Homo sapiens: one gene and its partner. The protein of the gene in region 2 interacts with the protein of the main gene of each other region in a pairwise test. Each region holds a gene or a part of one and is shown on either strand. Other genes may lie near its edges. The genes, in order: PKIA and PRC1.

Region 1 (7,667 bases), on a different chromosome or scaffold from region 2:
TTTTTCCTTTTCCATTTCAACATTTCTGAACTTTTAAAAAAGTTTTTATTTTTTAATTTGAGACAGGGTTTCATTCTGTTGCCCTGGTTGAAGTACAGTGGTGCCATCATGGCTCACTGCAGCCTCAGACTCCTGGGCTCAAGCAATCCTCCTGCCTCAGCCTCAAATCTTAAGGCTATTTCAATTGTAGTTAATGGCAGTAATGCAGCACCAGAAAAAGATATTTTGTTAGAAGAGGGCAACTTTAACTCCTAAATTTTTACTCTCTAAATATCTGGTAACACTGTCTAGCAGACAAAACTTTTTTTTTTTTTTTTACACAATTGGAGAGCAGTAGACTGACTTCAGTTCTATCTTGTCAAACACAAAAGTGCCTGCAGTTCATTTAGTATCTAATCATTTAGCATCTAATCATGCACGTCCTTCCATTTTTCATTCCTCTTTCAATTCTGAACACCAGCCAATTAGTTTTTCCTCTCCCTAGGAAACATTTTAAGGAAAGGATATAAAGTCATAAATCAGTTTCAGACATAAAATCATACATATATTTCTGCTTAGCCTTCTAAATTTAGAAACTTTCCTCAAACTTGTTTAAACACAACAAAGTCCAAATTCAGGAATCCCTTCAGTTTGATTATCTTCCTCAGTTGTACTAAAATGAAAATTAAATTTTCTAACTTGTTTTCTTTCTTCTCAACAAGATTTCTCCAACTCCAGTCCATAACTTAGTGGGTTCAACTCACCTGCAAAATCACTAGCAAGTATTATTCCACCTTAGGCAGCACCAGTCTCCTAATCCTGAACCTATTTCTTGCCAAAGAGTTTAGTTTCTTCAGAAACTAAATGATAGACACTTCGAATTTCTAACCATCATTAGGATATTCTCACGCACTTGCTCTTCAACAGAAAGGTGACTGTCAACATTACAGAAACTGCATTGTATTTCTAAGATCAATTGTACTAATCTGTATTTCATATACCTTAGGTTATTTAGAATAACTATATTAAAATTCATTATTATTCTATATTAGTATTATTCAGAATAATGATGTATATGGTTAAGTATTTTAATAGTAGAAAAAAGGTGGTAGAATACAGGGTTTGTTGTTGATCTTGTTCTTTGTTACCTCATAGTTAATGTGACTGAGTAAAAATTCTAGAATCTCAAGAAGTTAATATTTCAAACCAAAACCCTGTTTAACACATAATAACAACAACAAAAAAGGAACATAAGGTTATTAAGACCCCAAGGGGCAGTTCCTGGAGTGGATCACTCAGTAGTGGGCTTTGCCCACCCCCTACACCCTCACCCTATGCCTCATATACTGAAGATGGAGACAAAGAAACAAATTCAAATCTTTCTAAAGTGCATTTTGTAAAAACGAAATTTGTAATAGAAAGGCAATAATGATATATAATATGATTAACACGATTTTCCATACTAGTGTCTTTGCTTAAAAATAATATTTGAAGAGGAAAGAAAGAGGTAAAATTTTAAGCTACCAACTCTGCCCCTCTTTTTCATTGATCTTCTAATTTAATTTACTAAAATAAAATTGCATGGCTGTTGAGTCAGACAGTCTCTGTAATTTTAAGTTTAAAGATAACAGATCTTCCTTTAAATAGAACATTGGCACACAGATACCCCACAATCTGGCTTATTGCAACTGTTCTCTGTTGGTGAAGTGGCACGTTTGCAATCCCCATAACAGCCATCTTAACCATTTCACAGCATATTATTCAAATGTACATCTCTAGGTGGCAACAAGGATAGGCACTTGGGCTCAGTAGCAAGGGGTCTGTGGGGAAAATCCTAGGACGAGGGATAGGAACCTGCAAATGGCAAGACAAACTAGAGGATACTCAACCAGAGGCTTAGATTGGGCAGCTCCATTGGCTTTCTGACTGCCTACGAGGAAAACCTCACTGGAAACTCTTTTGAGGTTCTTGAGGAATCCTAGAGGCAAACGGACTCCTCTGCCTTTTGGAAAGGATTTGTCCCAAATCTTAACAGCTAGCTGTCTCAAAATCCAACTGGACTAAAATTGCTTCAAGAAAAACTGGATGGACTGGCATTCACATTTTTACTTCTACCTATGCCTATGCATAGGGAACATCCCTCACACTCCAGTAGATTCTATCTGTCCTCTCTAGCTTTCAAGTAGCCACAGTGACTACAGCGAAGGGAGTTAATGGGATAACATGTTGGTACAGGGCCACAAGCAGGATATTTCATTCCATGCATTTGGGGGAAGGACACAGGTAACAGTATACAGGGAGAATACCGAATAAGAAATCTGTGTGAGGCAATGCCCTTTTTGGGACCTTGACAAAATCAGTCATGGAACCCAGGTGGTGGATAAGAGCTGACGAGAGTTGGTCTGTGAATGGGCACAGCATCTCCGAAAAAGATCAATGAAATGATTGACAGAGAAAATGGCAATTGAAGGAAGAAGCGATGTCAAGTGCTGCTCAACCCAAGCTGAACTCCAGGAGATAAGAGAAGTTTCCCCTCCAGATAGAGGCTCTTTCTAAAGGTTCAGTCTTGAAGCAGGTGTTTTGCCATTGAGAGGGGCACAGACCCATTCTGATAACTGGAAAGGGAGAGGACCAAGGACTACAGGAAGAGGGACGATTTCTGATTACCTCAGGCTGCTGCCAGGGACCTACTGCTCCAAATCCTCAAAATACTCAAGCGAAGGTAAAAGGCACAGAAAGCAAAAGAGTAACTCAAATTATTTTAAATTTTGAGTCCTCTTCACTGTCTACGCGAATCTGGCACTGAAATGGTAGATCACGTTCAAAAGAGTATAGAGGCAAGAACGCCTTCTTTGTTTGCCCAGTAACACTGCTCCTCCAACCTCTGCACTTGGCCGCCCAACATTTCCATCCTAGTTGTTGCTCCTTTTCTCATTGCAGAATGCAGCGGGGTTCTCCCCTTCTTCCCTCCGTGCTGCAAACCCCATTATTAACCAAGCGGAAAGCTCCACGCAGTGCGGCCAGGGCGCACCGGTGCCGGGCTGCTTACCTTCCCCGGACCTAGTCAGCGCAGGTCCCCGCGCACGCCGCCACGGGCCGCAGTCCCGCCGCGCCCGCCGAGTGCTCGGTCAGCTCGCGCCGGCCCGCGCCCCACCTGCCAGCAGCAGCCTCCGCTCCCGCCGCGGAGCTCCGGCTGCATGAAGTCATCCCCGCCCCGGGACGGATCACCACATTCCGCGCCAGCCACGGGGGGAGCGGGGCCGCTCCCGACCCCAGGGAAGGCAGCCTGGAAACGGCGCTCGACGATCGCTGCCCCGCGAGGTTGTGGATTGATTTTCTATTAATGCTTTTACAGCTGCAGCATCGCTGGATTATGGATTGAGAGAGAAGAGCCAGGGGGGCTTTCTCTGCATAGCGTCCTTCCTCCGAGCGCTCCCCCGTCACCCCGGCTGCATGGACTGTTCCATTTGCCCCTGTGGGTTTCCCACCCTCTTCATCTTCCTTATCAGCATTGTTCATTTGGCTGAATTTGAGAGCAGGAATTGTCTTTTAAGATAAACATTCAAGCACTACAAAAACATTTTAAATTGGTAATGAAGCTTTCTAAGCCCTTCATAGCTCTCTCCATCACCCCCGCCCCCGCCAACAGACACACACGCAAACACACACACACACGCACACACGCGCGCACACACACGTATGCACACAGCCAAACCACTCACAATTTTGAAAGCTAGAACCTTTCGCCCTCTCACCTACGTAATAGAACGGGAATCTCCTAAAAGACTGGAGAAGTGGGGCCAACCAGAGAAAGCGCTCAAAGAAACAGTGGGGTGGCCCCATGATTTTGTTGTGTTTATGGTGCACTTGTGCACAGATGTTCCCTCTAACATCTCTTCCTCCTACTTCCTTTGCTCTGGACCCCCTCCCCTCCCTGCCACATAATTGGGCAAACTGTTGTGGTGACAGCTGTAACATTTGGGAATCAAAAAGCAGAGTCTACATTAGCAAATGACTATCTCTCTTTCCCTAAGGATTTATGAAAATTTGCTTTGGGAATGAAATAAGCATGTATTCATATAAGCCCTTTCCTTCTCTTTTTAAATTAACACTAGCTGTTAACAAGACTGTTCTCTCTCCCCCACCCTCCCGTTTTGCTTCTTTCCCAAATCTCTTCAGGTTTGAGGGTTGAATGTTTAAGGAAAAATGGGACTAAATTTGCTCTCTTTGTAGCTGAGCCAGGGTTTCCGCCTAGCTGTTGAGTCATTTTCCAGTCGGGAGGTTCCTTGACACTAGGGTTCTGTGGAATGGAGTTCCCTCTTTTAACTTGCCTTGCTGTTTGAATTGACCGTCACTTGATACAGGCCAGCTTTACACTATGGATTTGTCCAGCAACCTAAACAGTGCAATTGCACAAGGCCAGGGAAGCACCTTTGCTAAATGAGATGTTTCCATCCATCTATCAGTCCCAAAGTTAGGTGATAATGTAGCCAACAGCTTTCCAACAAAACTTAGTTAGAATTCTTGGTCATAGAATATATGCTCTTTGAAAGCTAGAACAGCTTAATTCATCGCTCTGAGACTCACTTTCATAACATTAGCCCGTTAATATTACCATAGAGCAGGAGATTCTTAATCTGTATAAATGGAATTCTATTCATATACTCCTTTTATACAGATTAAGTATAATGGGAAAAATCTCATTTTTAGTTTCACTAACTTCTAACTGAAATTTAGCATTTAGCATGTCCTTTAAACATAATGTAGGCAACAAACCACAAGAATGTTAGGAGTACCTGGGACTTTGTTTCCAATAGAAACAACAGCTAATTCCTTATTGCTGTTTTTATAGATATCTCTATCACTACACTGATGTTATAATCAAATCATCACTACTTTTTTTATTTAATAGACTATATTTTTCAGCTTTGGTGTCCAGAAAAATTGAAGAAATAATACAGGGTGTTCCCATATATCCCATTCCCAGTGTCTCCTATTGACATCATACAATAGTAAGGTACCTTGGTGTAATTCTGGCATTGCTATAAAGAACTACCTGAGATTGGGTAATTTATAAAGAAGGGCTGGTGGTTCTGTAGGCTGTACAGGAAGCATGATTGGGGAGGTCTCAGGAAACCTATAATCATGGTGGAAGGCAAAGGGGAAGCAGGCAGGGCCTACATGGCTGGAGCAGGAGAAAGAGAAGGGGGAGGTGCTACACACTTTTAAACAACCAGATGTCATGAGAACTCACTACCACCAGAAAGCCAAGGGGGAAGTCCTCCCCCATGATCAAGTCACCTCCCACTAGGCCCCTCCTCCAAAATTGGGGATTACAATTTGACATGAGATTTGGGTAGGGACACAAATCTGAACCATATCATTGGGTTACAATCAATGAATGTATACTGATACATTATTACTAACTATAAATAAAGTCTAACTACATTTAAGTTTCCCTGGTTTTTACCTAATATCCTTAAATCTGTTCCAGGCATCCATCCAGGATACCACACTAAATTTAGTTGTCATGTCCCCTTAAGCTCCTCTTAGCTGTGATAGTTTTTCTTGTTTTTGATGACCTTGACAGTTTTGAGGAGTAGTGGTCAAGTATTTGCTGGAAGGCCTCACTGTTGCAATTTGTCTGATGCTTTTCTTATGATAAGACTGGAGTTGCGAACTATTGGCAGGAGAAAGAAAGAGGTAAAGTCCCTTTTCCTCACATCATATCAAGGTGCTATAGTACCGATGTGATTTATGACTGGTGATGTGTTGACCTTGATTGTCTGGCTGAGGCAGTGTTTGTCAGGTTTCTCTACTGTAACGTTATTGCCCATCCCTTCCATACTGTACTTGTAGGAAGTAACTACATGAAACCCAAACCTAAGGAGTGGGACTTTGGCTCTACCTCCCTGAGGGCAGAGTGTGTACATAAAGTATATGGAATTCTGTACAGGAGAGCTGTCTATTCTCTACCAAGTATTCAATTACTTATTGATATCAATATTATAGACTTATGGAGATGTATTATATTTTATGCCTTTGGTAATAATCAATTACTACTTTATTTTGTTGTTCAATTTGTTCCAGTTTTGCCCATTGGAAGCTCTTTCAGTAGGTTCCTGTGCTCCTTTGACATACCCCCTTTGATGTGTGAGTGTGCGTGTGTGTGTGTATGGCAGGAGCAGCAGGGCTGTTAACAATCCCTTACTTTATGGTATTATAAGTTCCTCCAGTCTCAACTTGTATACTTCCTTCTTCATTCCAAGAATCAGCCATTTCTTCATGGAGCCCTTGTTCCTTTTATGGGAGAATGGTAATACAAATCAAGATCTGGGTCCCAGACACAGTCATTATTGGCAGGTCATTTTGTTTAGGCCTTTCAACTAAGACAGTGAAGAAATATATGTGTATACTTACCCATGCATATATACATAAGTATTTCTATATGTGACCATTCTGTGTCTGTATTAAGCTAAATATGAGCACATACTTATGTTTCCAACTTTAATCCTTTAACACATAGATCATTCTAGCCTCCTCCCTTTGCTTGTCTGTAAATTCCTATTCCAATAGTGAGAATCATGGCTCCCATCATTCACTGTTATAATTGTTCAATTTCAGTGTACATGTAAAGCAGTATAAAAATTGTTAACCCTTTCCCACAATATCACAATTTTTAAGTAAATATATATAACTCTCCTATACTGTGTTTAATGAGTTTAAATGCCCATACCTTTGTATATCATGAATTTTGTTTTTAAATATTTTGATAACAGTATTTTAAACTTCGTAGTTTCCTTTCCAATTCTACGTATTATATTTTATGCATTGAAAAGCATCATTTTAAGAAGAGTTATGTAGGTTGCTTCAGATTGTCAAAGGGAGCCATGGCAAAACTTAGAATACAAACTGTAGACTGTTACTGTGAGGCTATAATGAGATGGCATGAAATTGCCACTCCAGAGCTTCAGGGAGCTGATACTCTGTCAGTGTTATCCTTGCATACTTGGGCAGGCTTCTGTCCCCTTTCTCCTTTGCAAGTTCTAAATACCTTGAATGAGAGAACATGTTCAGCCTTCATAATTTATCATTTAGTTGAAGGATTTGCTAGGTATCTCATGCTGAAGATAAAAGTCCTTATAAAGTAAAGAGGCAGGAGGATGAGAAGGTGAAGAGAACCAGAAGGTTGAGATGACTGTGAAGGTTAGAGATTTTGTAGTTGAACAGACTTGGGCTTGGATCCCCACCACTCACAGCCTGACTTTGTCTTGTTTCTGAGATGAAGACAACAATTGTCTCAAGAGTGAAAGATGTTTGATCTTTTCCTTCAAGTTGCCTGAGGCAGTAGGGATGCAACTGTGGCGACTTGGGACAGTCCCAGAACATGTTTTCTTGACCCCCCAGTGTAGTTTCCATCTGCGAAGCCAGACTCACTGAAGATAGTTTCTTGTGATAATATAGATACATTCATCTATCAAAGTATTCTTATCAGGTACTTTTTATTCATGGAAAGGAATCAGTGTGTTGATGGTGTTAAAGACAACAGTCAAAGACATTAAATGGCAGGATTGAACTGCTTCTGATACTCCAGCACGGTAAGAGGCATAGGGAAACCAGAAAGAAAAGGGGAAAGATATTGGGAAATGTCTTATGTCAACATATAGGGTTTGAATCTGTCTTCTTGG
Region 2 (5,286 bases):
TGCTCTCTACACATCAGGGGTTAGGTTTTATATTTCTCACCAAAAAATTAGAGTAAGAGATATTCTTAATTTAGAAATGTACCAGAGAATATTTTAAAAATCACACTCGGCCGGGTGCTGTGGCTCATGCCTGTCATCCCAGCACTTTGGGAGGCAGGCAGATCATCTGAGGTCAGGAGTTCAAGACCAGCCTGGCCAACATGGTGAAAGCCTGTCTCTACTAAAAATACAAAAATTAGCCAGGTGTGATGGTGCGTGCCTGTAATCCCAGCAAATCGGGAGGCTGAGGCAGGAGAATCGCTTGAACCTGGGAGGTGGAAGTTGCACTGAACCAAGATAGTGCCACTGTACTCCAGCCTGGGCGACAGAGTGAGACTCAAAAAAAAAAATCACACTCCTGACTAAAAATTTCCAGGAGGTCCTTTTAGTTTTTTGTGTTTGTTTTTCACACACAGACCAACCAACTAAAAAGTGACTGGGGAAAAAAAGGAAACACCACACTATATCTTTTTGAAATGTAAGTATACAGATTTTAATTTATTTTTAAGAATAATTGTATATTTTAAAAACAGGACACGTACTGTATGAGTAAACAGCGTGGCTAACACCAAGTCCACACTGGTAAGCTTTTGAGAACCATTTACACTATGTTGACAGTAGTACTGCTGCAGGCAGACAGCGGAAGAATAAATAATAGTGCTTCAAGAAGAGTAGTGATTGAGAGGATAGGTAAAGAGGGCGCCTCATCGTGGAAGCTAGAGCAGGAACACCTCCCCAGTAGTGACATGTGCAAAGTTCCAGATCTCCACGACAAAGACAGCTCAACCCATTGGAACAAACAGACTCCCAATGTGGCTGGCAACTGCGGGGGTAGAAGAACTCAGGCAAAGTAGGCACAGGAATGGGGGAGATGAGAGCCAAGGGACAAACGCCGAGAAAGCGTTCCGACAAGCATGTGTGTTCATACATGCATACCCCCAACAAAGGGCAATGCACTGTGTAACAGAACTGAACACAATTTAACAAAGCTGCTCCCAGCCTTCCTGTCACCTCTTTGGCAGTAGGGCAGGCCATCTCAACTTCGGACACACAAAGACATTCTCTTCAGGAGGAAGGCTGTCCTGTGTGGTGGGGACAAGGCTTCAGGTAAGAGCAAAGCTATGATAGCTACAGCATTAATTGAACATGCCTAAACAAAAAAGATGTTAATTACTAGTTACAGGTATACATGCCAAAATTACCCCCAGGGATGGGCATAGTCAATCATTTTCCTACAGTGGTGAAATAAAACAAGCTTTGATCATGCTTCAGCAAGTAGAATTATGTGGTAGAGAAGTCAGGCCCCATATGCTAAAATTTGCACTTCTTGCCATAAACTTTTCATGTATATAAGTCAAAACCAAGTCTCCTAGGACCACTAAACCTATGATGGGCTTTCAACTGTAACACTCATTCACATCTTTAAGTTAGGCCCATGGTCATGGAACCTGGCCAAGGTTTCAAGCACGCCTAAGCTGAAGAAAAACTAAAGTCACCCCCATATAATTAGGTCCAGTCTAGGCACAGGAAGCCACAGCTGGTTGACTGATCAGGGCTTCTCAGGACTGGATGTTGGTTGAATTGAGGATTCCAGAAGTAGCATCAGATTTGGAAGCCTTTGAAAGTTCTCGCTGTTGAAAAATAAATAACATCAGTGGCCATACTGCCTCTCTTACACATGGCCCACCCTTCTAAGTTTGGTTAAGTGTCAGCAAAAGGTCCCTTGAAGGTAGTTTCTCTGAGATCCCTAGCCTGCAATAGGCTGCGTTAGGAGTAAAAGGTGAGGAACTCTGAGCACCATTCTATTAGTCACAGACAGAGTGCATGTGCACGCATGCCCGTGACCCCTTTTTCCTCAGCCAGTCCATTCTGTTACACCTCACAGAAGAGAAATCCTTCATACAGTCATGCACTGCATAATGATGTTTCAGTTAACGACAGGCCACATACACTATGGTGGTCCCATAAGATTATACCATATTTTTACTGTACCTTTTCTATGTTTAGATACACAAATACTTACCATTGCGTTACAATTGCCTACAGTATCCCAGGAATAGCCTGAATCAAAAAAACCCACAATTGCCTACAGTATTCTTTCTGTAACATGCTGCCCAGGTTTGTAGCCTAGGAGGAAAACGCCATACCATATAGTTTAGGTGTGTAGGCTGTTCTGTCTAGGACTGTTAAGTACACTCTGATATGTGCACAATGAAATTGCCCCACATTCTCAGAACATATCCCTGTCATTAAGCGAGGCATGACTCTACTTCACAGAGCTACTTTAGAGTTGTCAAGGTAAGTAGGCAACAAGCTTTGGTCTCTTGAGCCCTTTATAAAACAATGGGCCAGAACATATATCTACCAATCCCTGGGGCTGAGGCCTTGTAACCTGCTGGTGATTTGATCTCATGCTGGAGCACATGGTAGAGCAGCAAAAGATAAAGCATGAATGGCTATTGAGAAAGACAGATATTAGCAGAGGTTAGTTTACCGGCTTTGGTGCTGCCTGGTGGAGTCTATCAGCCATAGCAACCCAAACCAGACGAACCTACCTAGGACTAGCCACACAGATAGGCAGGTACATTTAAGCCTCAGATAAAATGGGCCTTGGTTGAACAAGCGAAAAAGAGAAAGCTGGACCTCTGTCCAGCAATCAGCCAGAGTGACACACACCCACTTTTAAAGGTAGAAGCACCACCAGCCACGTAATTTGAAAAACATGCTGGAGTAGGAAGCCAGTTTCAGTGATCAAAACTAGCTGCAGCCTTGGCCAACTGTTCCATTCTCTATCCCTGCAGCAATTAAGAGGGGAGGCAGGCTAGGGGTTTAACTCAATATCCCCTCAAGGGTGAGGAACATCCTCTCCTCTTGCTAGTAAAATATTGAGAGAAGAAATCACAGATTAAGTAAAAGGCAGTGTAGTTAGGTGTTAGCAAATATAGAGTAGGATACTAGGAAGTGAAGAGCATTCTGGAAAAACTTGCTTCCAGTGCTTCATCTATGCTTCAGTAGCTCAATGTATGGAAAGAGGCAAAGGTGAGGAAATCAGCATTAGCTAGCTGAGAATAGAGCTGGCGGTTAAGCCCTGAGGGGTTAGGAAGGCATATACTCCAGGAAATAATCAGCACACAGGCCAAGAGCCTCATTGTAGGCAGCACACAGCTGGGGCTCCCTTCCCCATGTGATTGGGGGCCTCTATTCTTTCCAGCTATTGCAGGCCTTTGATGTCACAATTGGGGAGGGTCAAGGTTTTCTGTTAAACGTGATTTAAAACTGTGCCTGACTTTAGGGGCTGAGAATCCAATTCAAGTCTGAACAAATTTTATTAATTAATCTGTTGTGAATGTAAATCAGATGTGTTTTTTTGAGTCCATGATAGGAATTCCTGCTTCCTTTGTAACACTGCTGAGATTATTAGTTAGTGTAGCCCTGTGCCCAGATGAATGAAGCCAGCAGATGACAGATCAGTTTGGAAAAGGGACATGCAGGGATTGCCATACAGACCTGAAGCCCAACAGTGGAACTGTCAGAGAGGGACGGATCCTTCTAAGAACAAAGAATTAAGACAATTACCAAGAACTCCACCAAGAGAGCACCAGGACAGTGATAGAGGGGTTGCCTCCTGCAGCCAGGGAATGGTATGTATTAAGCAGAAGGATCCAGGTTAAATGTCTAGTTGCTGCTGCCAACTTCCTTCCTACACAACCCCCCCTTAAATCACACCCACCCTGCCATGGTCAAAGCAGGAAAGGGATTCTCAGCCTCCAAGGTAGCTGCCCTAGCTAATAGCCTGGGTGCCCCTGGGAAGATACCCACTCTGCCCCAACTGTGTGCTCCCCAGAGACTGGTAGATATTAGAAAAGGTGAATTACCGCAAACTCAGAATAGGTGCTGGCAACAGAATTAATGCTGAAGTTGCGCTGGAGGGGGGCCGAGCCAGGGTACCCACCACTCAGGATGCTGCCGTTGAGCTCCAGGTTCTCCTTGTTGGCTCCATGCCTGCCAGTACGGGGTGTTTTCTTCCCTGAACAGGTGGAAGCAGCGACTGGCTGCAGAGAAAGGAAAGAGATCCATGTATCATCCTTCTAATGAACGTGCACACGCACACACAATACCTGCACTGGTCAAAGGCTGAGACTATCTTTATATTCATGTCTATAATCCTATACTTTTTAGTTAAAAAAAAAACATATATATATATATATATATATATATATATATATATATGGGGCTGGGTGTGGCTCATGCCTATAATCCCAACACTTTGGGAGGCCAAGGCAGGAGGATTGCTTGAGGCGACATGTTCGAGACCAGCCTGGGCAACATAGCAAAACACTGTCTCTAGAAAAAAATTTTTTTTAAATATGAATTCTTGATTTACAGAACACCTATCTTGAGCATAGTCTAATAAAATATTTGAAAGACTGAATGTGTTTTGCCACATACTTTCCACATCTCTACTGAGTACCTGGCATGTCTAGTGATCTGGTTTCACTGGGCTAGAACCCACATGTAGGGGACCTATCTCCATACCAGCTGAGGACTGGGCTTGGAATTGAGTCTACAGCGACCCTGCCTGATCTTCAGTTTCCCAGACACATCCCAGTGCTTCCCATGGTACCAGTGGGGCTCAGAGTGACTGTTCTCTTTTTTTGCACGTTAGTTTTGGACCATTATTTAATGGTGAGCTAGCTTATATCTGTCAACTCTCAGCATCTCAATAAGAACCAAATCCAGGGATCTTAGAATCTAGAACAAGTAGGTGGGGCCTCTGGGTGAACAGGCTAGGGACGCATGTGAGGATGTGCTTAGACACAGGGCATACTAACCTTGCTGCCAGAAGGAGGAAGTCGAGACACGGGGGAGTGGTAGACTGTCCCTCCAAAGATAGGCCGAATGCTACTATTGGCCGTAGCATTGGACATGGTGGTAGTGTTCAGCTAGGGAGAAGAGCACGTGGGTAACTGATGTGCAGTAACATCCTCAGCATTTCTAGCAACCTGTCTACCCTACAGAGAAATGACTATGGGAGGAGGCAGTCTAGGGAAGACGGGTTTACATGGTGAAGGGCCTGCTGTGTCTAATACTGCATAGATTTGAAGTAACTTGTGAAAAATTTTCAAAGCCTATTGCTATCCAGCAAATGGAAGTGTACAATGGTACAACCACTGTGGCACAAGACATCTAGCATATGACCCAGCCATTCCACTCTTAGATGTTTCTACCCAAACGAAATGAAAGCAT

The links.
Region 1: the proteins of PRC1 (region 2) and PKIA interact in binary tests that used the Homo sapiens proteins (3 or more experiments, as listed by UniProt).

Annotation. Positions count from the first base shown.
Region 1 is NC_000008.11:78,511,830-78,519,496, reverse strand, and holds the start of PKIA (cAMP-dependent protein kinase inhibitor alpha), read right to left. Parts: upstream 3,158-7,667; 5' UTR 3,029-3,157; intron 1-3,028. UniProt on the Homo sapiens protein: Extremely potent competitive inhibitor of cAMP-dependent protein kinase activity, this protein interacts with the catalytic subunit of the enzyme after the cAMP-induced dissociation of its regulatory chains.
Region 2 is NC_000015.10:90,965,533-90,970,818, forward strand, and holds the end of PRC1 (protein regulator of cytokinesis 1), read right to left. Parts: intron 4,983-5,286; coding exon 4,872-4,982; intron 4,092-4,871; coding exon 3,915-4,091; intron 3,589-3,914; coding exon 3,547-3,588; intron 1,671-3,546; coding exon 1,599-1,670; 3' UTR 1,122-1,598; coding exon of another isoform or gene 1,047-1,121; 3' UTR 508-1,046; downstream 1-507. UniProt on the Homo sapiens protein: Key regulator of cytokinesis that cross-links antiparrallel microtubules at an average distance of 35 nM. Essential for controlling the spatiotemporal formation of the midzone and successful cytokinesis.